Homo sapiens: one gene and its partners. The protein of the gene in region 1 interacts with the protein of each later gene in a pairwise test. Each region holds a gene or a part of one and is shown on either strand. Other genes may lie near its edges. The genes, in order: SPANXN2, BEND7, COIL, ZNF2 and ZNF84.

What was found.
Region 2: the proteins of SPANXN2 (region 1) and BEND7 interact in binary tests that used the Homo sapiens proteins (3 or more experiments, as listed by UniProt).
Region 3: the proteins of SPANXN2 (region 1) and COIL interact in binary tests that used the Homo sapiens proteins (3 or more experiments, as listed by UniProt).
Region 4: the proteins of SPANXN2 (region 1) and ZNF2 interact in binary tests that used the Homo sapiens proteins (3 or more experiments, as listed by UniProt).
Region 5: the proteins of SPANXN2 (region 1) and ZNF84 interact in binary tests that used the Homo sapiens proteins (3 or more experiments, as listed by UniProt).

What each region holds. Positions count from the first base shown.
Region 1 is NC_000023.11:143,713,727-143,719,663, reverse strand, and holds part of SPANXN2 (sperm protein associated with the nucleus on the X chromosome N2), read left to right. Parts: intron 1-5,937.
Region 2 is NC_000010.11:13,443,564-13,449,851, reverse strand, and holds part of BEND7 (BEN domain-containing protein 7), read left to right. Parts: intron 1-2,532; coding exon of another isoform or gene 2,533-2,535; coding exon 2,536-2,586; exon of another isoform or gene 2,587-3,310; coding exon of another isoform or gene 3,311-3,321; exon of another isoform or gene 3,322-3,765; intron 3,766-4,291; coding exon of another isoform or gene 4,292-4,305; exon of another isoform or gene 4,306-6,147; coding exon of another isoform or gene 6,148-6,203; exon of another isoform or gene 6,204-6,288.
Region 3 is NC_000017.11:56,953,267-56,959,554, reverse strand, and holds part of COIL (coilin), read left to right. Parts: intron 1-6,288. UniProt on the Homo sapiens protein: Component of nuclear coiled bodies, also known as Cajal bodies or CBs, which are involved in the modification and assembly of nucleoplasmic snRNPs.
Region 4 is NC_000002.12:95,167,428-95,173,715, forward strand, and holds part of ZNF2 (zinc finger protein 2), read left to right. Parts: intron 1-6,288. UniProt on the Homo sapiens protein: May be involved in transcriptional regulation.
Region 5 is NC_000012.12:133,042,959-133,049,246, reverse strand, and holds part of ZNF84 (zinc finger protein 84), read right to left. Parts: intron 1,293-6,288; coding exon 1,166-1,292; intron 495-1,165; coding exon 399-494; intron 1-398. UniProt on the Homo sapiens protein: May be involved in transcriptional regulation.

The DNA of each region.
Region 1 (5,937 bases):
CACAAGGGTGCATGTTCCTGACCAATTGGCCAGTAGGCAGAGATAAGAGTTTGTGCCGCAAAGGAAGAAGACACTAGGGGTGGACAGACAAAAGTTGTAGGTTATGGTGGCAAGTCATGAGAAGGTGGGGGTTGAATTCTGCACAAACCCTTTGTTTTAACTTTTATGTTTTTCCAAGTTGAATACCTGCCAGCAAGGGTAGCCCCTCTGAAGGCCTGATAGGAAATGTTGGTAGTGGAGGAGGTGAAGGCTGTTTGGTTTTGGAGAGAGAGCAGGAAATGGGTTTTTGTAACTAATAGCCATTGCGGTCCTGACAGCGCAGAAGGATACAGGTTGCAGTTGAGGGAATTGTTTGTGGATATTTTCCAGGGAGCGCCCTTGACTTGGATACATGGAGAGCGGCTCCGGCAGAAAGGGGAGGGGTTGATAAGAGGTATTTTCTGGAATCCGACTGGTAACATGTTTAGTTAAGAGGCTATGAGGTGAAGGAGGGTGACAGCCCTGTGTGTGACGGTGTGGGTGGATTTGATGGATTGGTGGGGGGGGAAAGGTGATTAGCCGAGCAAGATTATAAGCAGGTTTTGCGAATGAATTGGTCAATTAGGTGAAATGCAGGTTTATTTTGGACAGGGTTCATGTGGCCAGGTTAACAGGAAGGGCTGTGAACTACTGGATTTGTGTGGACAAACAAATTTAACAGTTGGAAGGAAGAGGGGAGTGTGACTGATTTAAGAGGCAGTGAGGCTGATGAAGGGGGCTCATCTGTTAGACGTTCGGGGTGGGGACTTAGAATATCCCACAGATAGAGAGGACAAAAGGAGAAAGAGGAGATTTGAGTAGGAGTGAAATTTTGGAAGGTGCCCTGAAGTCATATCTCCTTGATTAGTGTGACAAATTGGCCTGGACTATTCAGGGTCATGGGGAAGGGAAACCAGGAAAGATCTGAAATAAAGTAGGAGACAAAAGATTGGAAACTGGAGACAGAGAGTGTTATGGACTAAGGTGTTCTGGATTGGCAACTTCTGGAATTCTTGTTAAGTACAGTGAGGTTGGTCTTGTCAGGGAAGGAGAATAATTTGGGGGTGAACAAATTTCTAGATGTGGATCTGGTGCTCTTTTTAGTTTGAAATGTGCATTCAGTGTGCAAAGGATGTTAGCTTTGGCGCTGTGGGAGTAGTTAGCATCACCTGGTGAGAATTCCTCCACTTAGGTTGGAGAGCGGGGGAGGAGGAGTCTGTGATTCAGACCCAGCCCGCTGGTTGTAGGGACAGGGAGGAGTGTTTTGAGGATGGACTTTTAGGCTGGGTCAAGTAAGCATTTGCGTACTGTCTTATTAGATGTTGGGTGAGGTGTAACGCCGGCCAAGTATTCCATATAGAATGGGGGGAAAATACAGGGAGATTCTGGAGGATAAATGGAGCATTTGTACATGAATTTAAATGGGCTTAGGCTGAGCGCTTTTAGGAAATGACTCATAATCGCATGAGGAACAATGGGAGAAGTGAAGTCCAGGCCATTTTAACCTTTAAGGAGAGTTTGGTTAGTTGTTGTTTTTTATAAAATTTTTCCTGAAGATTCGGAGTGGTAAGGAATATGGAAAGCCCATTTAATGTTTAGAGCCTTTACCAGCTGTTGGTTAAACTGAAACAAATTGGCCCATTGTCTGACTGGATGCAAGAGGGGAGTTTAAACCGGTGGATAATATGGGTGGAGAGAATAGAAGCGATGGTGTGTGCCTTTTTGGTGGTGGTAGGAAAAGCTTTTATTCATCCAGAGAATGTATCTACTATTGTTAGAATGTATAGGAATCACTTTCTGGGGAGCATGTGAGTGATGTTGATTTGCTAGTCCTGCCCTAGTAAGTGTCCTCAGGTCTGGTGTGTGGGAAAGGAGATGGTTTGATAGCTTCCTGAGGGGAAGTTTGAGTGCAAAGGGAACATGCCTTAGTAATATCTCTGAGATGGGCAACCATGGTGGAAGAATGTCTAGAAGTTTTTAAAAGCTGGAGTAGGGGCAGTAACCGGCATGGAAATGGTTGTGCACATATGAAAGTACAGAAGGTTTTTTAAACTTGGGCAAGACACTTTATCAGTGAGATCGAACTATTTTTTCCTGAATGGCACCAGCCTGGGCAAGTGGGTTTTTTTCCTGCTGGGTATATACAGGGTGTATGCTGGGAAAAAAAATGAGCAATAACGATGGGGTTTTAAGGGCTGCCTGCCAGGCTGCCGAATTTGTTGAAAGGTTTTTCTCGGTTTTGGCATCTGTAGCCTTTCGGTGTCCCTTGCAATGGATAATGGTGGCCTTTGGTGGTGGTTTATCCACCCCCAACAGCTTATGTGTAAGTTTGCCATTTCTTATGGGGGTTCCTTTTGTAGTTAGGAAACCCTGTTCCTGCCAGATGAAGGCATGAGACTGTAGGACATGGTATGCATATTTGGAATGGGTGTAAATGTTGACCCTCTTTCCCTTTGCTAGGGTGAGGGCCCTGGTTAGGGCAACTAGCTTTGCCTGTTGAGAGGTAGCATGGGGTGTGAGAGCATTCGATTCTAGGAGTTTATCTTCAGCACTGATGGAATAGCCAGCTGCTGGACATGGCTGCCTAAAAGAGGTTCCATTAACTAACCGTGTATGTGTTCCCTGCAAAGGGGCATCTGAAATGTGTTGGAAGGGGGAGGAGAGGGAGTCTAAGAGGTCCAGACAGGAGTGAGAGAGCTTAGAGTCGGAAGTGTTTACAGGGAGAAGGGTGGCTGGGTAGAGAATTTTATGTCTCTGGAAGGTGATTAGAGGGTTACCTATGAATAAGGCATGCACCTGCTGTAAGCAGGATGGTGGGAGGGATAGAAGGGATTGGTGGTTTATGAGGTCCTGTAGATAATGGGAAGATGCAATAGTAATGTGTTGGTAGAGAGGGAGTTTCCGTGCATCTAAGGCCAGCAATGTGGCCATACCCAAGATTTTTAGTCAGAGTGACCAGCCTCGGATGACAGAGTCCAGTTGTTTTGAGAGGCGTGCAATGGCTTCTGGGGCGTTGCCATATGTTTGGCAGAGTAGTCCAAGGGCAAGGCGCTGGTCAGAATGTACATAGAAAGTAACAGGCTTGGTGAGGTTTGGCAGTCCCAGTGCCAGGGCCATTAAAAGGGCATTTTTAAGTTTTTAAGTTGGAGTTGATGGGGCAAGCTGGGTTCAGGGGTTTTAGGATGGGCCCATGTGAGGCTACGTATAGTGGCTTGGCCAGCAAGTCAAAGTTAGGAATTCACAGCCAGAAGTATCCCACAAGGCCCAAGAAGGAGGGGAGGTCCTTTTTTTTTATGTGGGGAAGGGGCATGTCCCAAATTGGCTCCTTTCATTGGGTTGGGATGGCTCGAGAATTAGGGGTTAGAACAAACCCAAGGTAAGTAACTTTGATTTGGGTACCTGAGATTTTGTGGGTTAGGCCCAATATACTTGATTATGAAGGAAGTTTAAAACCTGAGTGGTGTGTTGAATGGACAGGTTAAGAAAGGGGCTACAGAGAAGGAGGTCATTGACATACTGGAGGAGGGTACTAGGAGCAAGGGGAAGTTCAGCTAGGTCCTTGATGAGGGCCTGTCTGAACAGGTGGGGCCTATCCCGGAACCCCTCTAAGAGTACAGTCTAGGTGTAAGTCCATGTGTAAGTCCTGTAAGAGTACAGGACATGTGAGTATTAGGATTTGACCAAGTCAAAGCAAAAAGACTTTGGTAAGCCAGATTTAAGGGAATAGTGAAATAGTTGTCTTTTAGTTCAATACAAAGGAGTGTGTGGTAGATGGGGCAATACGGTAGAGTAGAGTATATTGGTTGAGGACCACTAGATGGATTGGTACCACGGCCTGGTTAACGACTTGGAGATCCTAGACAAAGGGGTAAGTCCCGTCTGTCTTTTGGAAAGCCAGAATAGGGGTGTTGTGGGGAGAGTTAACAGGCTTGAGAATATGAGCTTGTAAAAGTTTACAGATAATAGGTTTGAGACCCCCTAAGCAAGGCTGGATTAAGGGGATATTGAGACTGATGAAGGAAAATGGAGGGGTTTTGAAGGGTTATTTTAACTGGGATGTGATGTGTGGCTATTGTGGGTTTAGAAACATTCCAAGCTTTAGAATTAACAGAAGGTAACAGGGTGGATAATGAGGATGAGTGGGGGGAGAGGGAAGCGTTTGGGTGTCAGAGTAAAATAAAAGGGGTAGAATTGTAGGAGCCACATTGCATGGAGTTCTGGAATTTACTTAATATGTCCCATCCCAAGATAGGGGTAGGGGACTGAGGGATAACCAGGAAAGAGTGGGTGAAGGGGGCTGCTGAATAGGTTGTATAATAAAGGACCAGTCTGTGCCTAGAGGGGATTTTATTGATTCTCACAATAGAGATCGAAGAACAGAAAAAGGGTCTAGAATATTCTGGTCAAACTGAGTAACTAGTTGTCCTATTGAGTATCCAATAGGAAAGACATGGGCTTACTAGAGACTGACAGAATTACCCTGGGTTCCGAGGTGGTGATGGCAGTAGGGGCGGTGGACTCCAGGCCCCACCTGTCTTCAGGTACAGGTGGTGAAGCAGGATGAAGAGTTTCAGTGAGCACAGTCTGACTTCCAGTGTTGCTTGATACCACAGATGGGGCAAGATTTCCAGAGTGTCCTGGGATTAGGCTAGGCTTTTGCCCAGTGTCCCTGTTAGACGAACTTGTAACAGGCTCCTGGAGTTGACTGTTGCCAAGTTGAGGAATTCTGTAGGCCTTGGGAACCCTGTTGAGTGGCAGCTACCAGCATTTGGTATTTAGCCTGGTCCTTCTTTAGGTTTGGATTTTTTAGTTCTTCCTCTCTAATCTTATAGATCTTGAAGGCCACTTTGATTAAGTCTCTTTGGAAGGTTTGAGGGCCACCCTCCAGTTTTTTAAGTTTTTTTCAAATGTCTGGGTCTGACTGGGAGATAAAGTATAAATGGAGGTAGTTTTTGCCCTTATTGGTATTAGGGCTTAAGGTGGCATATTTAGTTGTGACTTTTGAAAGGCAGGAGAGGAAACGAGCAGGGACAGCTTTATTTATGCCAGCTAGAAGGCATGATATCATATGGCCTGATTTCTGTCTGTCTACTGAAGTTGCCTGATAATTCCAACTGGGGCCAGTTCTGGGGACAGCTAGGGTCCCTATTGGATTATGAGCAGCATCTTGTTGGTGGAGGGTGTTCTCATGGACCTGGGCACCCATAAAGATGTGTTCCCTGTCCTCCAGGGTGAGGGTAGAGGAGAGGATGACATATATGTCATGCCAGGTAAGGTCATAAGATTTAGGGAAGTACAAGAATTCCTTGTGGAAGGAGGTTGGATCCATTGAAAAGGAGTCAAGTCTCCTTTCAATATGGGAAAACTCAGCTAGAGAGAAGGGAACTTGAATTCAGATTATGCCTTTAGCCCTCGCAACCTCCTGCAAGGGAAGGACTTTGGAAGGCCTTTGGGCATGTGCCTGGTTCCTAGCGAAAGGGGGTTGGGTGTGAGACCTGGTTTGAGGTGGAGAAGGAAGGGGGATGGAGGGCGACAGTAAGGGGGTGGAGGAGCCGGATCCGAAGGAGAAGGTGGAGGGAATGGGAGAGGGCAGGAGGCTGAAGAACGGGTGTGTTGGCCAGGTTGAAATTCAGAGGAAGAAGACTTGTCCGGAGGAAGAGGCATTTTGGGGGGTTTCTCCTTGAGGAGGAAGATTTGAAAAGGTGAACAAGATTGGCAGAGAGAGAGAGAGAGAGAGAGAGAGAGAGAGAGAGTGAGGCATGAAAGGAGATAAGCAAAGCACTTCAGATTATTTACCATTGCATTGAAGAAAGTTTTTTAGATTATGTTGAATTTGGAAGTTGAATGTTTTGTTTTTTGGAAGAGGGGAGTGAATACTCTGGATGGGAGTGACTACCCCTGAGGAAAGTGAGTACCCTG
Region 2 (6,288 bases), on another chromosome or scaffold:
CCTTGACTCTCAGCCCCTATTCATGCAGCTAGCGTGTTCTGATTTATATATAATCATCTATATATTTTTTTGGTTATATATGTTCTGTTCTTACTAAAGCACATAATTGCATAGGCCTGTTTTTTCAAAGGGAGGATAGCTGAATTACAAAAGGAAGGTCAGTTTATACCCAAAACTGATCTTGTTATAACTAAATGAAAAGCAATTATACATGTAAAGAAAGTTGCCAAAATATAAAATGAACTAGAACTCGAAGATTTAAGAAATTAGCTCATATCGATGCATATGGTATGTTTGGACTATTAATAGCAAAGAGACGAATAGCCCAGACATTAACGCGACTCATGTCCTTGGCATTGTTACTTACTAGCTGTGTTACCTGGAGTGAGTTTCCCAACCTCTGTCTCACTTTCCTTATGTGTTAAGATGGGCAGAGCAACAGACCCACCTTGTAGAGTGTCCTAAGGGTTCAGCGACACACTGCATGTCAAGTGCCCCGTGAGCATTTAATACATGGTGATTATCATTGTTATTATTATTGAAGGATTTTTAAAATCCTAGGCAGTGAGAGAACTACCATGAAGACCATCTGTCCCCAACTCACTCAAACCAATTAGAAGAAAATAATGTCTTCTAAATATAAACATAACATATGTTCATTATTTTTCATATATAAAATAATTTCTAAAAGCCATAGAACAAAATTTAAAATACCTAAAGCCTTTCATCCAGAGGGAAACACAGTTAACATTTCAGTATGTGCCATATTTTTTCTATAAACCTGTTTCCAGAATCTTAATCACACCATTTATCCCATGGTTTGAATATTTTTATGTTGTTAAATATTCATCTACAACATCTTTTTTTTTTTTTTTTTTTGAGATGGAGTCTCGCTCTGTCGCCCAGGCTGGAGTGCAGTGGCGCGATCTCGGCTCACCAAGCTCCGCCTCCCGGGTTCACACCATTCTCCTGCCTCAGCCTCCCGAGTAGCTGGGACTACAGGCGCCTGCCACCTCTCTTGGCTAATTTTCTGTATTTTTAGTAGAGACGGGGTTTTACTGTGTTAGCCAGGATGGTCTCGATCTCCTGACCTCGTGATCCACCCGCCTCGGCCTCCCAAATACAACATCATTTTTAGCAGTTGCTAATCTAATCCAACCTAGGTTGGTCTTGCATATTTCATCCCTTCTCAGTGATTTCTCTTTGTGGTGGATCTAGCAGGTCAGCAGACAAGGGGTCTTTCATTAATGCCAGTGAGCGTCCATCTGAGGACAAGATGTTGGAGGATGAAGGAGACAGGGGAGCCATACAATATTTCTAGCCGTAGCTAAGCCCTGATTATGTTTAAAGCAACAATAAAAACAAGTACGTAGCACTAGTTTAGGCTGCTTCTGACTCAGTGTTACAACATGGTGCCAAGGCTGACCTCATTCAACAGCCTCACAAGGGCTGCCCACGCACATTATGCAGTCAGCAGGGGCCTGCCTGTGGGGACCACAGGCCCTGAGCCATGGAGGCCACCACCGAAACTATCCCAGGGGCCATAATGTGATGTTTTCCCATCCCCACATGTTACGGGAAACTAACAAGCCCATCCCTTGTCAAGAGACACACGTGCACCTTTTTTTTCGCATGTAACAGAAGGTTTTTTGTGACTGAAGGATCTACCTTTGGAAAACTCCCAAGGAGATGGATACATTTATCAGACACGAGCGAAGGTTTGCATTTTAAAACTTAGAAATGGAGAATCTTTTGAAGCAACGCCTATTCCTTCTTCATGACCACGTTAATGCCAGAGTTAGATTGGCAGTTCTAGGATCTGAATCAGCCATCTCCAAAGAAAGGTTCATTCTCAAGATTTCCTAAGCTGCCCCCCAGGAGTGGTTCCGGCGATGCCAAGTGCAAATTCTACAGCAGGAATTCATTGACACATCCCCGCGATGACCCTATTTAAACAATTCACCCCACATGCTGGTTCGATATTCAAGCCTATGTAAATAAGTGAAAATAAACAGAAATCATCAGTGATCAATAGAATGAGGTTCATAAGATTTTAAAAAGTTTTAATATCATGAGGTCAGGAGAGCGAGACCATCCTGGCTAACACAGTGAAACCCCGCCTCTACTAAAAATACAAAAAATTAGCCAGGCGTGGTGGCGGGCGCCTGTAGTCCCAGCTACTCGGGAGGCTGAGGCAGGAGAATGGCGTGAACCCGGGAGGCGGAGCTTGTAGTGAGCCGAGATCGCGCCACTGCACTCCAGCCTGGGCGACAGAGCGAGACTCCGTCTCAAAAAAAAAAAAAAAAAAAAAAAAAGTTTTAATACGGGAAAGTTGATTTTATATCACCATCATCAAAAAATATTCAAATAATGATATTAACATCTGTAATATGAACCAACGGTAGCTGAAAACAGAAAAGAATGGTGAAAACAGTTATGTATACTGGAGTTTTTAAAATTACATCACTATTTTCTGTAAAATGAATGTGCTCCCTGGAACTAATGAGATTTGTGTCTTATGTTTGTAACCAGCAGAGATCGCGGACAGTGATGAAAGACTGGACGGCATTGCTCTACCACCAACAGGTAAATAAAACGCATTTACATTTTCATCACCTCCTGGAAAATACAGCCCACAAAACTATTTGCATTGAAAACGATTTTAACATTAGACATGCAGACACTTGAGCAAACTGCTTCTGCAGTGGACCAGGCCCCGTCATTGGAGCTTCTCAAGGCCCCGTACTCAGAGATGTTTTTCATACTGAATAGAAAAACGTTTTTCTCACACTCTTATTTTCATAAAAATCTCAGAAGAGCAAATCCTAAGAACTAAGTATCATAACATTTTGCCTCCCCAAACCTTTGGACATTACAAAATATTTTTAACGTGAAATGAGATTTCACCTTAAAACGGGGACCACTAATTTTGTGTGATCAAATTCATGGCTAGGCTGTCCTCTCCCACCTCCTCCAAACGGCCTTGGAGCCTTGAGCAGTCAATCAGTGGACACCCAGTGAATACTATGTTTTAACTGAGCGATTTGAACAAGGCCAGCCATCCGGCGTGAGTGGCACATTCCTAATACCAGGACCAGATCAGCTGAAGATACCCTTCCATGGAAGCATTTGCTGCACGCTGTTGTGTTAAGCCATAGACATAATTCCAACTTCATGTTATTTGACTCTCAAGTAATGCTTCTGACCCTGGCTTCCTACCTGTGTATGGGTTCATATCTGAGAGCCAGAGGGGCAGGTGTCTGATCAATGAGCCTTGTGGAAAACAATGTATCCCCTCCATTGGTCACAGGACTCTACTGACTTCCCTCCAAAGGATATCTGAAGATTCTCTGCCCACAAAACCCAGGTACCCCCAAAAACCCTCTTACTGAAAAGGTTCAACCGAATGTTTTTTCCTCTAGTTTTGGGGTGGTCTGTGTTGATTAAATTCAGCAAATATTAGTGGAGTCTCTAGGTTGTGTAGGAACTTGACTAGGCCATGTATTCATTGACAGCACATATCCCAAAATGGCAAGGAAAGCCACATTCGCAGGCATAGGATGGGCCTGTGCTAGTGAACTTCAGAGCTTCAGAGCAACAGGAAAATTCAGCCGTGTAAGAGACACATTGCTTTCTCTGCCACTGAGTAGCTAAGCAACAGATCAATGGACAGATAAATCAAATGAGCTACATAGTGCAAAAAGACCTGCCTACATCAAGTTCTTCCCATACAGAGTCATTATATAAAAGAGATTTCTGTTCTTCTTTGGCTGTGTTTTCACATTTGTGAATTAAGAGAATTGAAATACGTGATCTCTGTTGTTCCTTCCCAATTTGTCATTCTCTGAATATCAGGGCACGCATATCAGCCTCATTCTTATCACCTGGGCCCAATCCCAGCCGATCCATGAAATCCTAATCGTAATAGACCTAGCCTTCAGAAGGCCCTTCAGGGGAGCACCATGCCTTTCTAGCTGTGCTTCCCAAGTGCCCTCCCACCCTGGCCATCTGCACTGCCTGTCCTCCTGTGTCATGTGACACAGTGAGCTTTTATTATTTGAAAGCCACTCCCCTTGAAGTTTATATTCACCCCCAAGTGGTGAGTACGGAATGCCTTTGTATTTTCCTATCTGAAGTTGGAGATACGTTTCCAGTGAGAAAACTGAGGTCAGAGGGTGCTAGAAGAGCCTCATGGAACTGAAAAAAATGTCAAGGAATCTGAGAATGAGAAGGAACTTGAGAGATCCTCTAGTCCAATCCCTTCTTTTTATCCAGTCCTTTTATTTTACAGGAAAAAAAGCCTGAGGCCCAGAAACATTAAGTGGCTTTCCCACGGCCTCACAGCTGGTTGACGGCCTGGCCGGAACCCAGGTCCCTCGACTCCCAGCCATGATACCATATAGCTTTCTCATACCTAAGCCAAAGCCAGCTTTTCTCTGCATGTTTCTTAAAGATCCTAAGAGATGATGGATGTGCTAATCCCTTTAGGAGTCCTCTTCACTGTCTCAGTCTTCACAATTAAAATGTTCGTCGTCAGTCGGCCCGGTTCACTGCAGCTGAAACTCGTTTCTTCCAGTCTTTTCTCAAACTTTACCCAAGGCTGTGAGGTCATAATGAAGAAAATAGTATAACACACTTGCAGATCTTTTCATTAAACTATTGATAGATATTTGATACAAATCACTAAGCAGCATGATAAATAAAAACGTTTATCATTTAGAAAAGAGGAAAAGAGGCCGGGCGCGGTGGCTCACACCTGTAATCCCAGCACTTTGGGAGGCCGAGGCGGGCGGATCACAAGGTCAGGAGATCGAGACCATCCTGGCTAACACGGTGAAACCCCCGTCTCTACTAAAAAATATATAAAAAATTAGCCAGGCATGGTGGCGGGCGCCTGTAGTCCCAGCTACTCAGGAGGCTGAGGCAGGAGAATGGCGTGAACCTGGGAGGCGGAGCTTGCAGTGAGCCGAGATCGCGCCACTACACTCCAGCTTGGGTGACAGAGCGAGACTCCGTCTCAAAAAAAAGAAGGAAAAGAAGTCTCAGATTGATGCTCAAATTTTGCAGTAATAATATTAAGTAATCTTGATATTCACCTGGATAGCATGTCTCTTGATTGCCTCCAAAGTAAAATCCCCATTCTGGTTGGCTTCTTTGAATGCAGTGCTGCTCCTAACACCCCTCCTCACATGTGCCCTTTAAGGACTCCACCTTTCTCGCACATGTGGTTTCATCCTTGAGCTTGAGCCTCACTGGTCAGAACCACAGGATCGACCAAGGGCTCTGATACAGACTCTCATTATCCCATTTATCTGAGCTAGCAACAGTTAGTTCTTTTTAAAGATTCAACAATGCTTTTATTACTTTTTTAAGGTCTTTTTTCCTCCTTCCAAAGTTGTGTATTTGGGGGAAGGGCAGGGAAAGGGATGTAAATGCTTAAGTGTTTCTATGAACCAGAAGTGACTAGGGTAGGGTTACAGGCAGGTCAAATGACATTTGTTTGGATGCATTACATTTAAGCAACCTTCTGTTCATCAGGCTTTAGCAGAAATGGATTCACCTTCTGTAGTGCATCTATTTTAGTTTCCCTTAACCCTATTCACTAAGCCTTTTTGAGCAACTACCAAGAATCAGCCCCGTGTTGGGTGCTGGTGTACAAATGCCCTCAGACTAGTGTGAGAGGCAGAAGGAATTACATAAATGCTATAGCACAGATGTGTGGAGAGGGTCTGGGGCTCAAGAAAAGCCACCCAGGAGCTGGGGACAATTTGCATTAAAAAAAAAAGTATAGAGAAAGTGAAATCAAAACAGTGCTTTCTAAAATTTAAAATGGGGCTTCCAAATTTGAAATGGGGATGTTCATCTAGACTTAGCAATTGTCATAAATTGGCATTTTACATACTTTTAAAAAATTAATAAAAGTGTAAGGAAGAACATTTCAATTGCTTTTACCACCCACAGACAACCATTATTGGATGATTTTTCTCAAATGTTTCTCCATTTTATTTATTTATACAGTGGAGATCAAATATGTAAAATTTTGTTTCCTACATGTTTTTTTGATTTTTACCTAACAAGCATTTTTCCACTCTATGGCAAATCTTCATATGCATTATTTTAATAGCTGCATAATATTCTGTTTTGCAGGTAAATTATCTTTTAGGCCATTTTCCATGACTGGACAATATGTGGATATACTCTAATAGTAACACACATTCGTGGCCTTTCTCATAAAAAATCATTACAAATTTCCAATTTCTACAATTGCTCATGGAGGACAACTAAAGC
Region 3 (6,288 bases), on another chromosome or scaffold:
TTTTGGGCTGTAAATTGGGAAACACAAAATAATCTTAAATATGCTTTTGGAAGTTAAAAAAATGATAATGAGATGAGTATCCAGGAGCAATTGTAGTGTGAATTGCTGAAATGTGGTTGAGTTGCCACAGTAAGATGATGGTATCTGATCATTCCAGTTTGGATTCATATCTTGGACTGATTTATTCAGACTTTTTTTTTTCTTTTTTAAATAAAGAGACTGGGTTTCCCATGCCCAGGCTGGAGTGCAGTGGTACGATCATAGCTTGCTGTAACCTTGACTTCCTGGGCACAGGCAATCCTCCCACCTCAGCCTCCCGAGTAGTTGGGACTTCAGGCCAGGCAACCACGCCTGGCTAATTTTTGTATTTGTTGTAGAGACAGGGTTTCGCCATGTTGCCCAGGCTGGTCTCGAATCCCTGGGCTCAAGCTGTCCTCTCACCTCAGCCCCCCAAAGCACTGGGATTACAGGCGTAAGCCACTGTGCCAGCCTTCCTTCCCCCACCCCCTTTAAGCTTCAGCTACAGTGAATTAATTCCAGAGTTGTGAACCAGGCTATTTTCTCTTGCTGCCCTTTGTCGTTGAATATTCCTTACCCTCAAGCATGTCAGATTCCGTAAGATTTCTTCAGAACATCAGGGAATTTAATTTGGAACAGTAACTGCATCTTTAAATCAGGATATTATGATTTATTGAATAATGTTCAACTGTTTCAAATGACAATTTGAAATAATCCAAATTTCAAAGAGTTTTTTTTCCCCCTTTTTATTGACTGTGAAATAGGTCTCTATTCTCTCTGCAATTCAAGGATTATTTAAATGTTACAATTCTAAGGATTGTGTCCCATCCTATTAAGTTTACTTTCTGAACTGTCTCTTGCCTAATGAGTTAATAACTTGTGCTAACTATAATTATACTTTAATGAATCATGTGGGCATTACATTCTTCATAATGAAGTTAACAATGACAAAAACAAACCATGAAAACTGTTATAAGTAATAATTACAACACGATGACAGGCAAATCTTTCCTAAATGCTTCAAATGCACAGCTGCATGTGGCAAAAAATACCTCTCTAGTGGCTTCAGTGGCAAATGGGCAGACCGTAGAAAAAGATGAATCTGGAAAGTTCGTCTTTGTTTTTGTTGTTTTATGTCCACAATCATTGTTTTTCCCTGGCAAATTCACTTTTCTTCAGAGCTACGGAAGAACACATAGTCTCTATTCTCAAAGTACCCAATATTGTTGGACTGGGACCCAAATAATGAGTCTCATGCTTTTGTATATTACCTTCTGTGATACAGACAATTAGACTGAATAGTTAGACCAAGTTATATGGTAAGTGCAGAAGCTGGTTGAGAAAAGGGAGATCAGCATGGAACAAAATGGTTAGGGAATTGAGCAGTACCTTGAAGAATGGGTGGGAAATGTTGGATGATCAAAGCACAGTTATAGAGACAAAAGCTGGCTGGACTTGGTAAAAAGATGAGTCTGACCAGCCAAAGCATTCTGTTGGGATCATTGGCAGTACTGAGAAGGCTAATGAGGAAAAGTGGAACTAGGTTGTGGGAATCCTGAGAAACAGCCTTTGAGGCTTTGGATGCACCACACACTTGTGTTCCACTGCTGTTTCCTCATAGCCCATTCTCTTAAGCCCCAGGAATCTGGCTTCATCTGCCCCCAGGTTTCTGACAGCGAGTTCCTAAAGGTGGTCTCTAACTGTCCTGGGAGGAGGAGGAGGTGCTTCTATTGGCTTGGAGCCCCCTGTGTTAGTTTGCTGGGGCTGCTATAACAAAATACCACAGACTGTATGGCTTAAAAAATGGAAATTTATTTCTTACTCTTCTGGAGACTACAAGTCCAAGATCAGGGTGTTGGCAGATTTGGTTTTTTTATTTTATTTTAATTAATTAATTAATTTATTTATTTTTCTTGAGACAGAGTCTCACTCTGTTGCCCAGGCTGGAGTGCAGTGGCACGATCTTGGCTCACTGCAACATCTGCCTCCCAGGTTCAAGCGATTCTCCTGCCTCAGCCTCCCGAGTAGCTAGGATTACAGGCACCCGCCACCATGCCAGGCTAATTTTTTTGTATTTTTAGTAGAGATGGGGTTTCACCATGTTGGCCAGGCTGGTCTCGAACTTGTGACCTCAAGTGATTTGCCCTCCTCAGCTTCCCAAAGTGCTGGGATTACAGGAGTGAGCAACTGTGTCTGGCGGTTTTTAATTTTTTTTAATTAATTTTTAAATTTTTTTTAATCGTGCAGCCCTCAGAATTACAGTAGATTCAGAGAGACTCCCTTATTTTTTGAGACAGGGTCTCACTCCATTGCCCAGGCTGGAGTGCAGTGGCGCAACCTTGGCTTATACAGCCTCGAACTCCTGAGCTCAAGGGCTCCTCCTGCCTCAGCCTTTTGAGTAGCTGGGACTACAGGTGCAGTTTTTTATTTTTAGTAGAGAGGTCTCACTAAGTTGCCCAGGCTGGTCTCAAACTCCTGGGCTCAAGTAGTCCTCCCGCCTTGGCCTCCCAAAGTGTTGGGACTACAAGCCTGAGCCACTGCCCCCGGCCTGAGAAACTCCCTTTTGAAGAATCAATTCTGTAAGGAAACAGTGCATTCTGTCTTCCCTGACCCTTTTAACTCTGGCAATTAATACTTGATGAAGGCTGGGCGCCATGTCTCATGCCTATAATCCAGCACTTTGGGAGGCTGAGGCAGGCAGATTGCCTGAGCTCAGGAGTTCGAGACCAGCCTCGACAACATGGTGAAACCCCATGTCTACAGAAAAATACAACAAAATTAGCTGGGCATGGTGGCACATGCCTGTAGTCCCAGCTGCTTGAGGGGCTGAGGTGGGAGGATCATTTAAGCCTGGGAAGTAAAGGCTTCGGTGAGTTGAGATGGTGCCACTGCGCTGCAGCCTGGGCGACAGAGTGAGACCCTACCTCAAAAAACAAACAAACAAACGAACAAAAAAACACATTGATTAAATGTTAGAGATGGGCCAGGCATGTTGGCTTATGCCTGTGATACCAACACTTTGGGAGGCCGAGGTGGGAGGATCACTTGAGTCCAGGAGTTTGTGAGCAGCCTGGGCAACACAGGGAGACCCTTATTCTACCAAAAAAACCCCAAAAAACAAACAAAAAAAATTAGCTAGGCTCAGTGATGGATGCCTGTAGTCCCAGCTAGTTGGGAGGCTTAGGTGAGAGGATCACTTGAGCCTCAGAAGTTGAGGCTGCAGTGAGCCATGATCGTGTCACTCCACTCCAGACTGGGCAGCAGAGCAAGACCGCATCTCAAACAAAACAAAATATTAGAGACGAGTTCTCATTTCATATTGCTGTAGTTAGTGGCTCCTTGGATAGTCCAAGATAAAAAGTTTCCTACTACTTTTATCATATACTTTTTCCCACACCTCACTCTCCAGAAGTATCCTTGGTTAAGTTTGGGGTATGGGGTATATCTTAGAGCCAGATTTCTATACATGTGCAACCATATGTACTTATACTTTTAAACTACAAATATCATAACATACTGTTCTGCACCTTGCTTTTTTACCTATCATGGGCTATCTCAGTATATAAAGTGTGTGATGTATGTCATTCTTTTCTGTTTGCTACATAGTGCTTTAGTGAATATTCTTGTATTTTTTTTGTACTTGGAAAATTATTCAGTTGGATTTATTCTTAGAAGAAATACTCATTGGTCTAAGAGAAGGTACATATAAAAATTGATAAGTACTGTCAAATTAGCTTCCAGAAAAGTTGTACAGACTTGTACAACTTTTAAAAATTCACCAACTTACCCATGATAGGACTAACAACATTCATTGTACTAATAAAAATTAGAGCTAACATTTGGATATCACTTGTTCTGAGTCAGGCATGCTCTCTCTGCATAATAAGTCACTGAGTACTGTAATTATTGTCATTATCCCCATTTTTATAGATGAGAAAGGCTGAGGTAATGATTTTAAAAAAAATTACAGTGGCAGAAATAGCATTTGAACCCAGGCATTCACGTTGGCCTTGGCAGGCAATGGGTAGGGAGCATCAGGTTGGACAGATGGGCATGTCAGTGTTTCTGCATAACAGAATCCTAGACAGTAAATTGTAGATTTTAAGGGTGGACTTAGATTTTGATAATACCACTCAGTTTGCCTTGCAAAGAGTTAGAATGAAAAGTGGGGATAGCTGGGCATGGTGGCTCACGCCTGTAATGCTAACACTTTTGGGAGGCCGAGGCGGGCGAATCAGCTGAGGTCAGTTCGAGACCAGCCTGACCAACGTGGCAAAACCCCATCTCTACTAAAAATACAAAAAGTTAGCCAGGCGTGGTGGCAGGCACCTGGAATCCCAGCTACTTGGGAGGCTGAGGCAGGAGAATCGCTTGAACCCAAGGGGAGGAGGTTGCAGAGAGCCCAGATCATGCCACTGCAGTCCAGCCTGGGCGACAGAGCAAAATTCCATCTCGAAAAAAGAAAAGTGGGGATCTGTTTTTTGGAATCAACTCTTTCGTCACTAGTGACCTAGGTAATTCACTTCTACTTGTGAAAGGACAAATGCATGCACTTTTGTTTGTAAAAGGATAGCTCTATTCTTTGTCTGTGATCCAGGTAAAGAAATAGAGAATATTGCCAGGGAAGGTGCACCTGACAGGAATGGTAACTAAGCAGACCCAGGAGAACCATTTCTTTTTCTCTGGATGGTATTTTGCCTCTCAATCTTAATATTTTCTTTTTTTTTTTCTTCCCAGATGAGGGCTCACTGTGTTGCCCAGGCTAGTTTTGAACTCCTGGGTTCAAGTGATCTTCCCTCTGCCTCCTGAGTAGCTGGGATTACAGGCATGTGCCACCACACCAGTTTATAATCTTAATATTTTAAAAACTGAAATTATTCTCTTGGGGAACAGTAGGTAGTGGGGCTGCAGGAATCACAGGTCATACCTTCAAGCCAAATAGCTGTAGATGCATGGTCTTTTTTTTTTTATTTTTTGGAGACAGAGTCTCTATCTGTCGCCAGGCTGGAGTGCGGTGGCGTGATCTTGGCTTACTGCACCCTCTGCCTCCTGGGTTCAAGCGATTCTTCTGCCTCAGCTTCCCGAGTAGCTGGGACTACAGGCGCATGCCACCATGCCCAGCTAATTTTTGTATTTTTAGTAGAGACTGGGTTTCACCATGTTGGCCAGGCTGGTCTCGATCTCTTGACCTTGTGATCTGCCCACCTCAGCCTCCCAAAGTGCTGAGATTATTACAGGCATGAGCCACCGCGCCCGGCCAATGCATGGTCTTAAGAATGGATGAGACGATGCTAAGAGCTGTTTTGGAAGGCGTGAGGGTGTTGCCAGCTTCCAGGAAAGGAAGGGGTTCTCATCAACTGGATGTTACATGTGCTGTTTTCCAGGGCCTTAATAAACCACAGTGACTGAACAGAGACTTGCAACCATTTTCAACATTTGACAGAAAGTTTGGTCCTATTTGGTCATCTCAGAATTGAAGCTTGGATCATTGCTACAAGTGAAAACAAATTGATCAGAAATGTCAAGAAAAAAATCTGATATTGTAGCGCTTCCATGGTAGTTCTTAGATTCACAGGATGCCAAACTGGCTTTTGCCAGATTAAGAATTATTTCCTTGCTATTAGATGCCAAGCTGGGAACAGAGGGGAATGTGTTTTTATAATTTAAAATCCCTGGTCACTCAGCATTTTATTTGTCTCTTTCTCCTACTCCTGATATCAGTAACTCTTATTTTATCTTGATTTGTTTGTCTGTATAGTTAGTTTTCTGACAAATAATTGAGGATTTTTTTCAACTACCGCATTGAGGTAAATCCACAGGATTACTATGCCTTAAAAAATTTAAAGAATGCTTGTCACATATGCTCCTATCATTCACCAGTTGTTCTTTATTTTCAAATATGATTGTCTACATCTTTCCCTGGCCACTGAAAAAACTTGATGAAATATATAGCTGAATGTAAATGCCTTGTAAGTATAATGTGTGTTTTCAGCAGTGGCGCAATTACAGCTCACTGCAGCCTGGACCTCCTGGGCTCTAGTGATCCTCCTACCTCAGGTAGCTGGGCCACAGGCATGCACCAACCATACTTACCTAATGTTTGTATTTTTTTTTTTTTTTTTTTTTGAGACGGAGTCTTGCTCTGTTGCCCAGGCTGGAGTACAGTGGTGTGACCTCGGCTCACTGCAAGCTCCACCTCCCAGGTTCACGCCATTCTCCTGCCTCAGCCTCCCGAGTAGCTGGGACTACAGGCGCCCGCCACCACGCCTG
Region 4 (6,288 bases), on another chromosome or scaffold:
CCCGGCAGGCGGAGCTTGCAGTGAGCCAAGATTGCGCCACTGCACTCCAGCCTGGGTGACAGAGCGAGACTCAGTCTCAAAAAAAAAAAAAAAAAAAAAGAAAGAAATAGAGATAATAGGATCAGAAATGCATTGGTAGGCCAGGTGCGGTAGCTCATGCCTGTAATCCCAGCACTTTGGGAAGCCGAGGTGGGCAGATCACTTGACGTCAGGAGTTCAAGACCAGCCTGGCCAACATGGTGAAACCCCGTCTCTACAAAAATACAAAAATTAGCAGGGCATGATGGCGGGTGCCTGTAATCCCAGCTACTTGGGAGGCTGAGGTGGGAGAATCACTTGAGCCCGAGAGGTGGAGGTTGCAGTGAGCCGAGATGATGCCATTGCTCTTCAGCCTGGGCGACAAGAGTGAAATTCCGTCTCAAAAAAAAAAAAAAAAAGTAGTTTTCAAGCATGCCATTTCAGGTGTGTGAGGGGCAAAAGCTGAAAAACAGGGACTGGAGAAGAGTAAGTGGTAACAGTGTGGAGTCAGTAGGTTATTATTCTCCAAAAAGTTTGATCATGAAAGGACAACCTAAATGAGAACTGCTTTGCTAGAAGGAGGTCATGGGATTCAGTGAAAATAGTTTCAGGTAGAGGAGGCTTGTATGTCTTTGAAGATGTTGAAAGAAAGTGCTACTGGGGTGGAAAATGCTGGAAGAAAAAAAAAAAAAGACTGGGGTCTGGGCGCTGTGGCTCATGCCTGTAATCCCAGCACTGTGGGAGGCTGAGGCAGGCAGATCATGAGGTCAAGAGATTGAAACCATCCTGGCCAAAATGGTGAAACTCTGTCTCTACTAAAAATACAAAAATTAGCTGGGCATGGTGGCCCGCGCCTGTAGTCCCAGCTACTCAGGAGGCTGAGGCAGGAGAATCGCTTGAACCTGGGAGGCAGAGGTTGCAGTGAGCCAAGATCGTGCCATTGCACTCCAGCCTGGGCGACAGAGCCAGACTCCGTCTCAAAAAAAAAAAAAAAAAATACTGGGAAGTGCAGGGACAAATTCTGAGAGGAAGCAATGTGAAAAACAGTGGAACCCAGGGTATAGGACACAAAGGTAAAGTCCTGGAGACAGACATTTCTGTCTTGTTGACCTCACACATCTCGCTGCCCTAGCACATAACAGCTACTTGGTACATATTCATCAAATAGTGGGATGAGTGGATGGATTGCATTGGGCAGTAGAAAGGAAGAGAACTTTATTTGTTGAATGAACTGTATGATAAATGCTTTATATTAATGGTCTCACCATTTATAACTATGCTGTGAGTTAGGTGGTAAACAACTGTTGGCTTAAGTAACTCATCCAAGGCTTCATGGTTAATAATTCCATGCTTGTGGAATGCTTTCTACCATATAACCCTGCTTCCCTTGAAACTCATTCCTGGGAATCTTTGGTGTGGTAGAAGACAAAAGTTATGCGGAAATTGAATGGTACCCATGGAGGTTTGGAATAGCCATGTAGCTAAGATGGGAGCAGTAAAAGCTTTCTGGACGATGTCAAGGGCTCGTTTGAAGATATAGACTGAATTTAGGGGACATTTTCTCCAGTGATACTCTGAGATGCAGGGATAGGAAAAGAGAACACAGAAGTGGAGGTGGTTCTTGGCTAGCAGTAACTCCCTGTGAGTTTGGTGGATTTGAGAAGTCTTCAGTGTCAGTGAGCTTACTGAAGTGACTGCTGGTGGAGTCTAAACCTAATGGGGAGAGAAGTCTACGGATGAGGAGCACTTTGGGAGTATCCACTGGTTGTTTAATAACTGGGGAGCTTATATGTTCACCACCATTTGTAATTCGTTCAGTGCTCAGTTTAATTAAAGTTGTAATCTAATAAACAAAACTTTGAAAATTGTCTTTAAACATTTAACACTGAGCAGTTTCGACTGCAGTTTTGGATATGGTTTGATTTGTTCAAAAAGCTCCAGTGCTTTAGACAAACATATACAAATACTTTGACTCCAAAGTTATTACTGCACTTACATTTAAACCTACTCTAAAATAGCAGCAACTCGGCCAGGCGCAGTGGCTCATGCCTATAATCTCAGCACTTTGGGATGCCAAGGTGGGGAGATCACCTGAGGTCAGGAGTTCAAGACCCGCCCGGCCAAGATGGTGAAACCCTCTACAAAAATACAAAAATTAGCCAGGCATGGTGGCAGGCACCTATAATCCCAGCTACTCAGGAGGCTGAGGCAGGAGAATCGCTTGAACCGGGGAGGCAGAGGTTGCAGTGAGCCGAGATAATGTCATTGCACTCCAGCCCGGGAGACAGAGCGAGACCCTGTCTCAAAAAAAACAAACAAAAAAATGCAACAACTCAGTGTAATTAATATTTTCAGTGTGTCTACCTTCCTAGAATTATAACATTACTTATTACATTACATTAGCTTATACTAACTTTACTTAGCACATTATTCTAAATGTGTTACATGTGTTACCCTATTTAAGCATCAAGATAACTGCAAGAGATATTACTTCCGTTATTCCAGTTTTGCAAACAGGCAGACTGAGACAGGTTAAGAAACTTTCCTGAGGTAGCACCGGTAGGAAGAGGCAGAGGTGGATTTTGATTTCAGGCAGTCTGTCTCCAGAGCCTGTACTCCCAATGACTACACTTTCCTGTATCTCTAAATGCTAATTTTGACTTATTTCTAGGGCCTAAGGGTAATATTTGGATACCCTCTTGTGATGGACGAATCTTAACAGACCAAAAAGGAAAAGAATACTTTTAGACAATACACGTTGCATGCTCTGGTTATCAATTGACATGTCTTTGTTTCTGTTTGTGTTTATATCTGCCTCCTCCCAGCAAGATTCAAACCCTAATCTCTCCCCGTTAGGTTGGGGGTGTTTTTTGTTTATTAGTTTTTGCTTATACTTAGCTAAACTTGTTTTTCCAATAAGTTTTTGCTTTTCACGTAGTTTTTGCAAACTGGTATTCACCCTCAAGGTAATATTCTTTTAAAATTTTGCTTGGCCAGTGTGAACCCATTGTTAAATAACCCTGAGCTGTCTGGCAACTTTTAACTCTAAGCTATAATGATTTATTTTCATGAAAAGATAGCATAGGTAACAGACCAATAGACTAGAACAGAAAATCCCCGAATATCCAAGAATATGATAGACCTGTTATAGAATAGAGTTAAATGCTACCAAACAGACCAGTAAATATCTATTGATCTGGTCTTTTGACATTTTTGAAAACTTAGTTGTTCCTTATTTTTGTGTTTGATTCATAAGTCTAGCTGTAGGGAGACATATCCTAAGGGAGAAAGGATGAAGTCTGCACAGTTACTATGCTTCTTTGGAAGCAGAGGTTGGTTCATTGTTAGTAGAGCCCATTTCTCTTTCTACTTGATACTTACGTGTGGCCCCAGTACTGATTAGTCCTCCCTGTTTGGGGTATGTAGTTCTGTATCTAGAATTACCTGGTTTATTCCCATTCCAAATTTCTTTTTACATACTTATATGAGTAGATACAAGTATCTATCCTGAGGGTACATCTATAGTCATACAATTAATAGAAAAAAGTACCTTTTTATGTAAGTAAAGTTTTAAACATTGCCTTCCTTGTATTACAACTTTTATGGCATATTTTATATTAACTTTTCTATTTTGAATATGAAACTCATAGTCCTTCAAAGTTCAAATTATTTTATTTAGCGCTAGTGATTTTTATTATTTATCTGGCCAGTGGGAGCCAGAGTCATCTGAGTTTTCTTATTCAAAGATGTGGGGTCGGCTCAAATTCTGAATGTCCAAAACTGTACTCATTGGTTTTCCCTTCAGTCCTTCTCTGTACCTTATCTCCATGAACGGCATCGTTATCCATGCCGCATTGGTAACCCGGGCGTCATCTTTGCCCTCATCACCTTCAGCCTCTTCTTCCAGCCAGTGTATTGTCTGTTTTTCTTCTTCTTCTTTTTTTTTTTTTTCCCCGACTCAGAGTCTTGCTCTGTCACCCAGGCTAGAGTGCAGTGGTGTGATCTCGGCTCACTGCAACCTTTGCCTCCCGGGTTTGAGCGATTCTCCTGCCTCAGCCTCCCAAGTAGCTGGGATTACAGGTGCCTGCCACGGTGCCTGGCTAATTTTTGTATTTTTAGTAGAAACAGGGTTTCACCATCTTGGCCAGGCTGGTCTTGAACTCCTGACCTCGTGATCCACCCGCCTCGGCCTCCCAAAGTGCTGAGATTACAGGCGTGAGCCACCGCACCCAGCCTGTCTGTTCTTAATAGCTTGACAGCAGTTTCCAACATTTCTGCTTTCACAGCTTTCATTCAGTTTGTCATCTTTCTTATTTAATTATAACACTCTCCTCAATGGTCTACTCACCTCCATTCTTTCCTTCCTGTAATCCCATCACACCACAGCCACTCAGTGTGGCGTGGCCACCTGTGTTGGGGTCCCCAGGATCACCCCAGGTTCAGGGATTCACTAGAAGGACTCAAGACTCGACCCATAGTTGTACTTCTGGCTAAGAGTATGATGATGACCCTGCAAGGATAGGCAGCCAGATCATAAGGGGAAAAGACAAGCCGGGTAGAGGAATCCGTATATAGGCTTGCTTCTATTCTCTTTCTCCCATGTGGGTGTCACATGGAGCACACTCCTTCCCCCAGCAACGAAAATGCAGCAACAAGTGTGATGTCTCTGCTCAAGGAAGCTCATTGGAGACTCAGAGCCCATGTTTTTTATTGAGGGCTAAGTCACATAGGCACCGTCTGCCTAACACATACCAAAATTCCAGACCCTCCAATAGGAGAGCACATGTTCACCATAAACGACATTGTTTGCACAAATAGTTTAGGCATAGTAGACCACCGTTATCTCTTAGGGAACTGGGGAACCCTCTCAAAATCGAAGTTTCCAGCTGCCAGCGAAGGGCCAGCATGCAAGCAGAACTTTCTAGGAATAGCAGTCTCAGGTCTGCTGTGACTTTTCTGCACACCACCCTTCTTTCCTTCCTGTTATTTTTTTCTGTACACCAAAATAAGGACTTACTCTTGTTGAAAAAAATATATGAAGAATGGTAAGAAAATAAAAATAACTTATAACTCACCACTCAAATTTCATTTACATTTTATTATGTGTTTTTCCTTTTTCTATACATAATGTGCATGTACAAATATGTAATTTTAAAAGTGTGCATTCTTCAAGTGTTTTGAATTTCTTTGTGGTTTTTTTTTTTTTTTTTAGATGGAGTCTCACTCTGTCACCCAGGCTGGAGTGCAGTGGCGTGAGCTCAGCTCACTGCAACCTCTGCCTTCTGGGTTCAAGCAATTCTCCTGCCTCAGCCTCCAGGGTAGCTGGCACTACAGCCACGTGCCATCATGCCTGGCTAATTTTTGTATTTTTAGTAGAGACGGGATTTCACCATGTTGGCCAAGCTGGTCTTGAACTCCTAACCTCAAGTGATCCACACGCCTCGGTCTCCCAAAGTGCTGGGATTACAGGTGTGAGCCACTGCACCTGGCCGTTCTTTGTGGTTTTTTTTCAGTTGTTGATTTTTTTTTTTTTTGTAAGAAACAAAGCATTACAGATAAAGCTGAAGTATCCTGGGTATCCTTCCCCAGTCTTATTTCCCTTTCTTCTCAGATATGTACACATTTGCTGCTTATTGTCCCATGTGTTAATAGATTTTTGTAGGTATTATTTACCTGTTTTTAAATTTTATGTAAATATTATACAGTAAGTCATTCTATAACTTATTTTTTGCCCAGTAATTATGTTTTTGTAATTTATCTCTGTTAACATGAGATAATGTATAATATTCATATATAATGTATAATACACATATTCATATATAATATTCATATATGAGATAATGTATATATATTCACAAATCCTTTATCTGATTAATGGACATTGAAGTTGTTTGCAGTTTATCACTAGTGATCTTCTCCCCAGTGACTTGTAATGCCACCTCAGTCATACATCAGGCTTCCCTAATGTTTGGATATGTTTTGGGATTTTCTGTTCTAGTCTATTGGTCTGTAATTGATGTGGCTATCTTTTCATGAAAATAAATCATGGTAGCATGAAAGTTAAAACCTCCCAGGCAGACATGGTTTCAAGTTCTACCTCAGATTCTTACAAAGCCTTAATTTCCTAATCTGTAAAATAGTGCCTACCTTATTGATTTATGAGGATGGAGTTAAATTAGCCTTATAAAAAGCACTTAGCACAGTACCTGGCAAATAGAAAATACTCAATAATGCTAGTTGTTATTAAGATGATGGGTTTTTTTGTTTTGG
Region 5 (6,288 bases), on another chromosome or scaffold:
GACTGAATGGGATCAAACATGTGAGAGGACAGAATACCAAACAAGAAGTCAAGGTCCCAGATGTTACAGAGAATAACGTCATGGCCAAGATAAGCAGGACACATTTCATTTTAAGCTACAAAGAAGCTACGTCTAAATGTGACTTACTTGAGTAGCTAATGTCAATTGTTCTGAGGCACCACCAAAGGTTTAGAGATTTTGAAAAGAGATCCTTAAAGCACATTTCAAAGATGCCAACCCATCACTGACCAGCCAACCCATCAATGACCAGCCCACCCGTCACTGACCAGCCAACCCATCACTGACCAGCCCACCCATCACTGACTAGCCCACCCGTCACTGACCAGATGACATGGGGCTTCTGCTCTCTCCCATCTGCCTGGTTCTCATACACTCACCTGGAGAATCTGAACTTGGAATTTCTCCATCTCCTACCCACGGCTCTTCTCCTTGCTCCAATTTGAAGATGACATCTGGTTTCATAACTTCATACCCTGTTAAGGGAAAAATCACAAAGGCCTTGGGCCCAACTGCTTGGGGTTTAGGGCCTCTAAAGTTGAGCAAGGTTTCACATCAAAGTTGGCCTGGTGAAGCTGTACCCCAACAGAGTAAGTAATTCTCAAAGTTACAGTAACGGTCTCCCTTGGTGGCTAATAGGGTCTAGTACAAAGCCACTGAACACTTCAGAGGCTCTGGAGCCAGTAAGCCTGGGTTTACATCCAGGCTCTTTAATTTACTAGCTGTTAGTTCTTGGGAAAGTTACTTAACCTCTCTTGGCCTCGATCTTCTCATCAGGAAAAATGGATAATGACTGTACTTGCCACATAGGATTGCTCTGATGACTAAATGAGTTGATATACGTAAAGCACTTGGTATAAGATGTGGCATATAGTAAGTTATATGCATTAGGTGCTATCACTACTGCTCAAACTATTACTACTTAAGTTTCAGAGGCTGCATGACAAACTTACAACTTCATTATTGAAAGGTGAGACCCAAATACTTTCTTGGTGTCATAGTCCAAGCAACTGTGATCTAAGTTTCAGGTCTAAAATCATTAAAAATTTCAGAAGCCTAGCTATAGGCTTCTGAAACTTCCCAGCAACTAAAAATAAAAGGCAATGCATTGGGCATAGTCCAAGGTCCTCAAGAAAGCTTTTATTACCCAGTGACACTAGGCTGCTATAGTTCTCCAACATCACATCCTTGTATAAATTCTTCTGAGAGGGATCCAGTAGCTGCCACTCCTTTTGGGTGAAGTCCACAGATAAATCGTCAAATGAGAATGACTCCTGTAAGAGCACAATCCTGGTAAATCTGAAGCAGTTAACACCGTATGATGTGAGAAAAAAATATTGGAGCTTTAGCACTTCATTCTCATAACAAGTTATACAAAATGCCTACTATGTCTCTACCTTTGCATATTTTGTGTGATAAAATGTCATTGTGCATTCTTCCATCCTTCCATTTATACAACTGTTAACCTAAAGATTAAAGAGAGCCTCTCCAGAAGAAAATGATGTTTGTTTGGGAACAGAGTACTGCCATGAGAAGACAGGTGCCATAGTAAACTACATGTGTATCCAGGGAGGTAAAGAAAGACGAAGGTGTCTACAGCCAGTACGGTCATACCACCCTCAACGCGCCCAGTCTCGTCCGTTCTCGGAAGCTAAGCAGGGTCGGGCCTGGTTAGTACTTAGATGGGAAGAAAGACAAAAGTTTTTAAAGGAAAAAAATGAGGTGCATCACATAATTGTTTTGAAACAGTTATCCTTGGCTACAAAGATCAATAACAAGGGTGACACCAGTCCAAAGCTGGACAGGCAGCTGCTGGGCAGATGTCCCAATAAAAGTATTTTTTGTGTAAGGCTTCAATGGCCTTTGTACGAGGCTGTGGCTTTTGCAGTCTTTTGTGATAATTTTTATCAGGCATGCAAGTGTGAGAACACTTTTTTCACAGGCTTCCCAAGCTCTACCTGTAGGGGTTAAAAAAATTAACACTAGTGACTCCATTTTGATTCTGACAACTTTCACAGAAGACACGCAAACTGGAATAGGTGACTTTAAACCCCCTGAACCACCAATAAAATCTTTACTGAACCTCAAATTTGGCACTGGAAGAGGTAGTAGCAAAAGAAAGAAAATAGGATAGGCAAGGTGGCTCACACCTATAATCCCAGCACTTTGGAGGCCAATGCGGGAGGATCACTTGTGCCCAAAAGTTTGAGACCAAACTAAGTAATACAGTGAGACCTGTATTATATATATATATAAATAATATAATACATAATATAATATATAATATAAATATTATATTAAAAATAATATAATATATAATATAAATATTATATTAAAAATAATATATAAATATATATAATATAAATATCATATATATATAATATAAAATATATATAAATATTAGCTGGGTATGGTGACATATGCCAGTAGTCCCAGTTACTTGGGAGGCTGAGATGGGAAGACTGTTTGACCCTGGGAGGTCGAGGCGTCAGTGAGCTGTGATTGCACCACTGCACTGCAGCTTGAGTGACAGAGTGAGACCCCATCTCAAAAACAAACCAATACACTAAAATACCAAGAAGGAAAATAATAAAATAATACTCTCAAAAGTCGCATTGTCTTACAGAGGGCTGCAAATATGCACTTACAAATAAAATAAACTTATAGTAACTAAGAAATAAAGGAGAGCACAGTGTGGATAAAAAGCAGGCAGCACTTCACTCTATTTGAGTGTAGAGTTAGGCTCTACGGAAAAGGTAAAATTGAAATGGGTTTTAGAAAATTAGTTGTTTTCCACAAAAAAAAGAGGATGCAAAGACATTCTGGGAGGCAGCAGCTCTGATTTAAAAAAAAAAAAAAAAAAAAAAAAAAAAAAAAAAAACTGTGAGGACTGAAGAGATACAAAAACATCAGTCTGACAGGATAATAGGGAATGGGATAGTGATGAGATTAAAGGCCACAGTGGGGCTGGGGCAGAATGTGGTTAGCTTAGCTAGGACACTTTCTTGTTGCCAAGTTAGCCATCAAAGACCTTACAAGAAAGGGAATGATAGAACCAAACAGATTTTAGAAAGGTGACTAGATTTTGGATCAAGATGGATTTCTGTCTCAAAGTCTCCTAAGATAAAAAGAAAACACAAGCACACATCTTTTAAAAATCTAGAATGCCACCAGAAAATCAAAAAATAAATTTGACCCTCACAGCACACAATATACTTTAAGAGAAGTCAGAGAATTTGAAGACAGATCAACAGAAACTGTTTTGAACAGACAGAAAATGACTTAAAAATGAACAGAGCTCATGACACTATCAAATAATACCAAAGACTCTAATGTGAGTGTCATAGGAGTCCCAGAAAGAGAAAAGAAAGAGCATGGTGAAAATAAAGTCTCAAGAAATGATAGCTGAATATTCTGTAAAACTGGCAAAATATATAAACCAAAAAATTCAAGAAGTTCAGTGAATGCCAGGCAATAAACATAAGGAAATCCATACCCAGACACATCATAAATGGCCAGAAAGAAAAAAAATCACATCACTTAAAGGGAACAGCAATTCAGATAACTGCAAATTTCTTTCTTTCTTTTTTGAGACAGAGTTTTGCTCTGTCACCCAGGCTGCAGTGCAGTGGCACAATTATAGCTCGCTGTAACCTCTGCCTCCTGGGCTCAGGTGATCCTCCCACTTCAGCTTTCTGAGAAATGGGGACTACAGGTGCATGCCACCACACCCACTTAATTTCTATTTGTTTGTTTTTGAGACACAGTCTTGTTCTGTCACCCAGGCTGAAGTGCAGTGGCCCAATCTCAGCTCACTGCAACCTCCGCCTCTCAGGTTCAAGCAATTCTCCTGCCTCAACCTCCTGAGTACCTGGGATTACAGGCACCTGCCACTACGCCCAGCTAATTTTTGTATTTTTAGTAGAGATGGGGTTTCACCATGTTGGCCAGGCTGCTCTCGAACTCCTGACGTCAGGTGATCCACCCACCTCGGCCTCCCAAAGTGCTGGGATTACAGGTGTGAGCCACCGTGCCCAGCTGAGAGTAAGCAAATTAATGATTGTCTTAGGCTGGGGTGGGAAGAGGAATTGACCAAAAATGTCACAAAGATTGTTTTGGGGTGAGGAAAATCTTCTAAAACTAGATTGTGATGATGGTTATACAGCATAAGTTTACTTAAAAATCAATGAATTATACATTAAAATGGTGGATCTTATTGAGGTCATACTTCAATAAAGCTGTTAAAAAGATATTACAAACTTATGCCAACATACTTGACAACTTAAGACGAGATAGCTATATTCTTTTTTTTTTTGAGATGGAGTCTTGCTCTGTTGCCCAGGCTGGAGTGCAGTGGCGCAATCTCGGCTCACTGCAACCTCCACCTCCCAGGTTCAAGCGATTCTCCTGCCTCAGCCTCCCAAGTAGCTAGGATAACAGGCGCCTGCCACCACGCCCGGCTAATTTTTTGTATTATTATAGAGATGGGCTTTCACCATGTTGGCCAGGATGGTCTCAATCTCTTAACCTCGTGATCTACCCTACTCGGCCTCCCAAAGTGCTGGGATTACAGGTGTGAGCCACCACACCTGGCCAAATAGCTATATTCTTTGAAAAACAATGAACCCAAAGTAACAAGAAGAAACAAAATCTGAATTAATCCTGTAACTGCTAAAGAAACTGATCCCACAATTTTAAAACTTTCCCTCAAAAAAAATGCAAGATCTATGTAGTTTTAGTGGTGATTCTTCCAAACATTTACTTAAAATGATCTGGCCAGGTGTGCTGGCTCATGCCTATAATTTCAACTATTTGATAGGGTGAGGCAGGAGAATTGTTTGAGGCCAGGAGTTCCAGACCAGCGTGGGCAATATAGTGAGAACCTGTCACTACCAAAAAAAAAAAAAAAAATTTAAACTAGCTGTACTTAGTAGTAGGTGCCTGTAGTCCCATCTACTTGGGAGGCTGAGGTGGGAGGCATGTTTGATTCCAGGAGTTCAAGGCTGCAGTGAGCTATGATTGTGCCACTGCACTCTAGCCTGGGTGACAGAGTGAGACCATGTCTCTTAAAACAAAAAGAAAAAAAAAGTTATTGCTGATGTTTTTGTTAACATGAAAAATCTAATCAAATCTAAAGAAAAATCATTAGAACTAATAAGTAAGCTTAAGAAATTCCTGGCCAGGCGTGGTGGCTCACACCTGTAATTGGGAGGCCGAGGCGGGTGGATCACAAGGTCAGGAGTTCAAGACAAGCCTAACCAATATGGTGAAACCCCATCTCTACTGGAAAAAAAAAAAAAAATACAAGAATTAGCTGGGTGTGGTGGCATACCTGTAATCCCAGGTACTTAGGAGGCTGAGGCAGGAGAACTGCTCGAACCCGGGAGGCAGAGGTTGCAGTGAGCCAACACTGTGCCACTGCACTCCAGCCTGGGCAACAGAGTGAGACTCTGCCTCAAAAAAAATAAAAAAATTAAAAAAATAAGTTCCCGTATACAAAGTCAATATGCCAAAATATTGCGTATTTCCATGTTTTGGCAAGAAAATTCTTTCAAATAACAAAATTTCAGATACCATTTACTGTAGAAATGGCTAACGGCAGGTCTGGGACAAAAAGATTAAACCTGTGCCTTGATAGATTCTGTCATGCTGGAAAGCAGTGTTCTAGCTGATCAAGAAGAAATGATCAAAGTAACCTGTCACCATTTTGCAACTCCCAATGAAATAATCCATCTATGCAATGATCATTTAAAAAATGTTGGCCAGGCGTAGTGGCTCACACCTGTAAGTGGCTCACACACTTTGGGGGGCTAAGGCAGGCGGATTGCCTGAGCTCAGGAGTTCGCGACCAGCCTGGGCAACACAGTGAAACCCCGTCTCTGCTAAAATACAAAAAATTAGCCAGGCGTGGGAGCGTGCGCCTGTAGTCCCAGCTACTCAGGAGAATCGCTTGAACCCTAGAGGCAGAGGTTGCAGTGAGCTGAGATTGTGCCATTGCACTCCAGCCTGGGTGACAGAGTGAGACTCCATCTCAAAAAAAAATAAAAAATAAAGAAGCCACCTCAACTGGGGGAAGGACTGCAGTTGCAATTGCAGTGAATGCCACAAAATGTGAAGTGAAAGAAGACAGAAGTGAGCATACACTACAACAGACAAAATAAATAAAATGAGCACACACTACAGCAGACAAAATCAAATATAGTGTTTAAGAACGCACAGATAGGAGCAGAACTATAAAGTCAGGAAATGGAGACCAAAAAAGGATCCTGG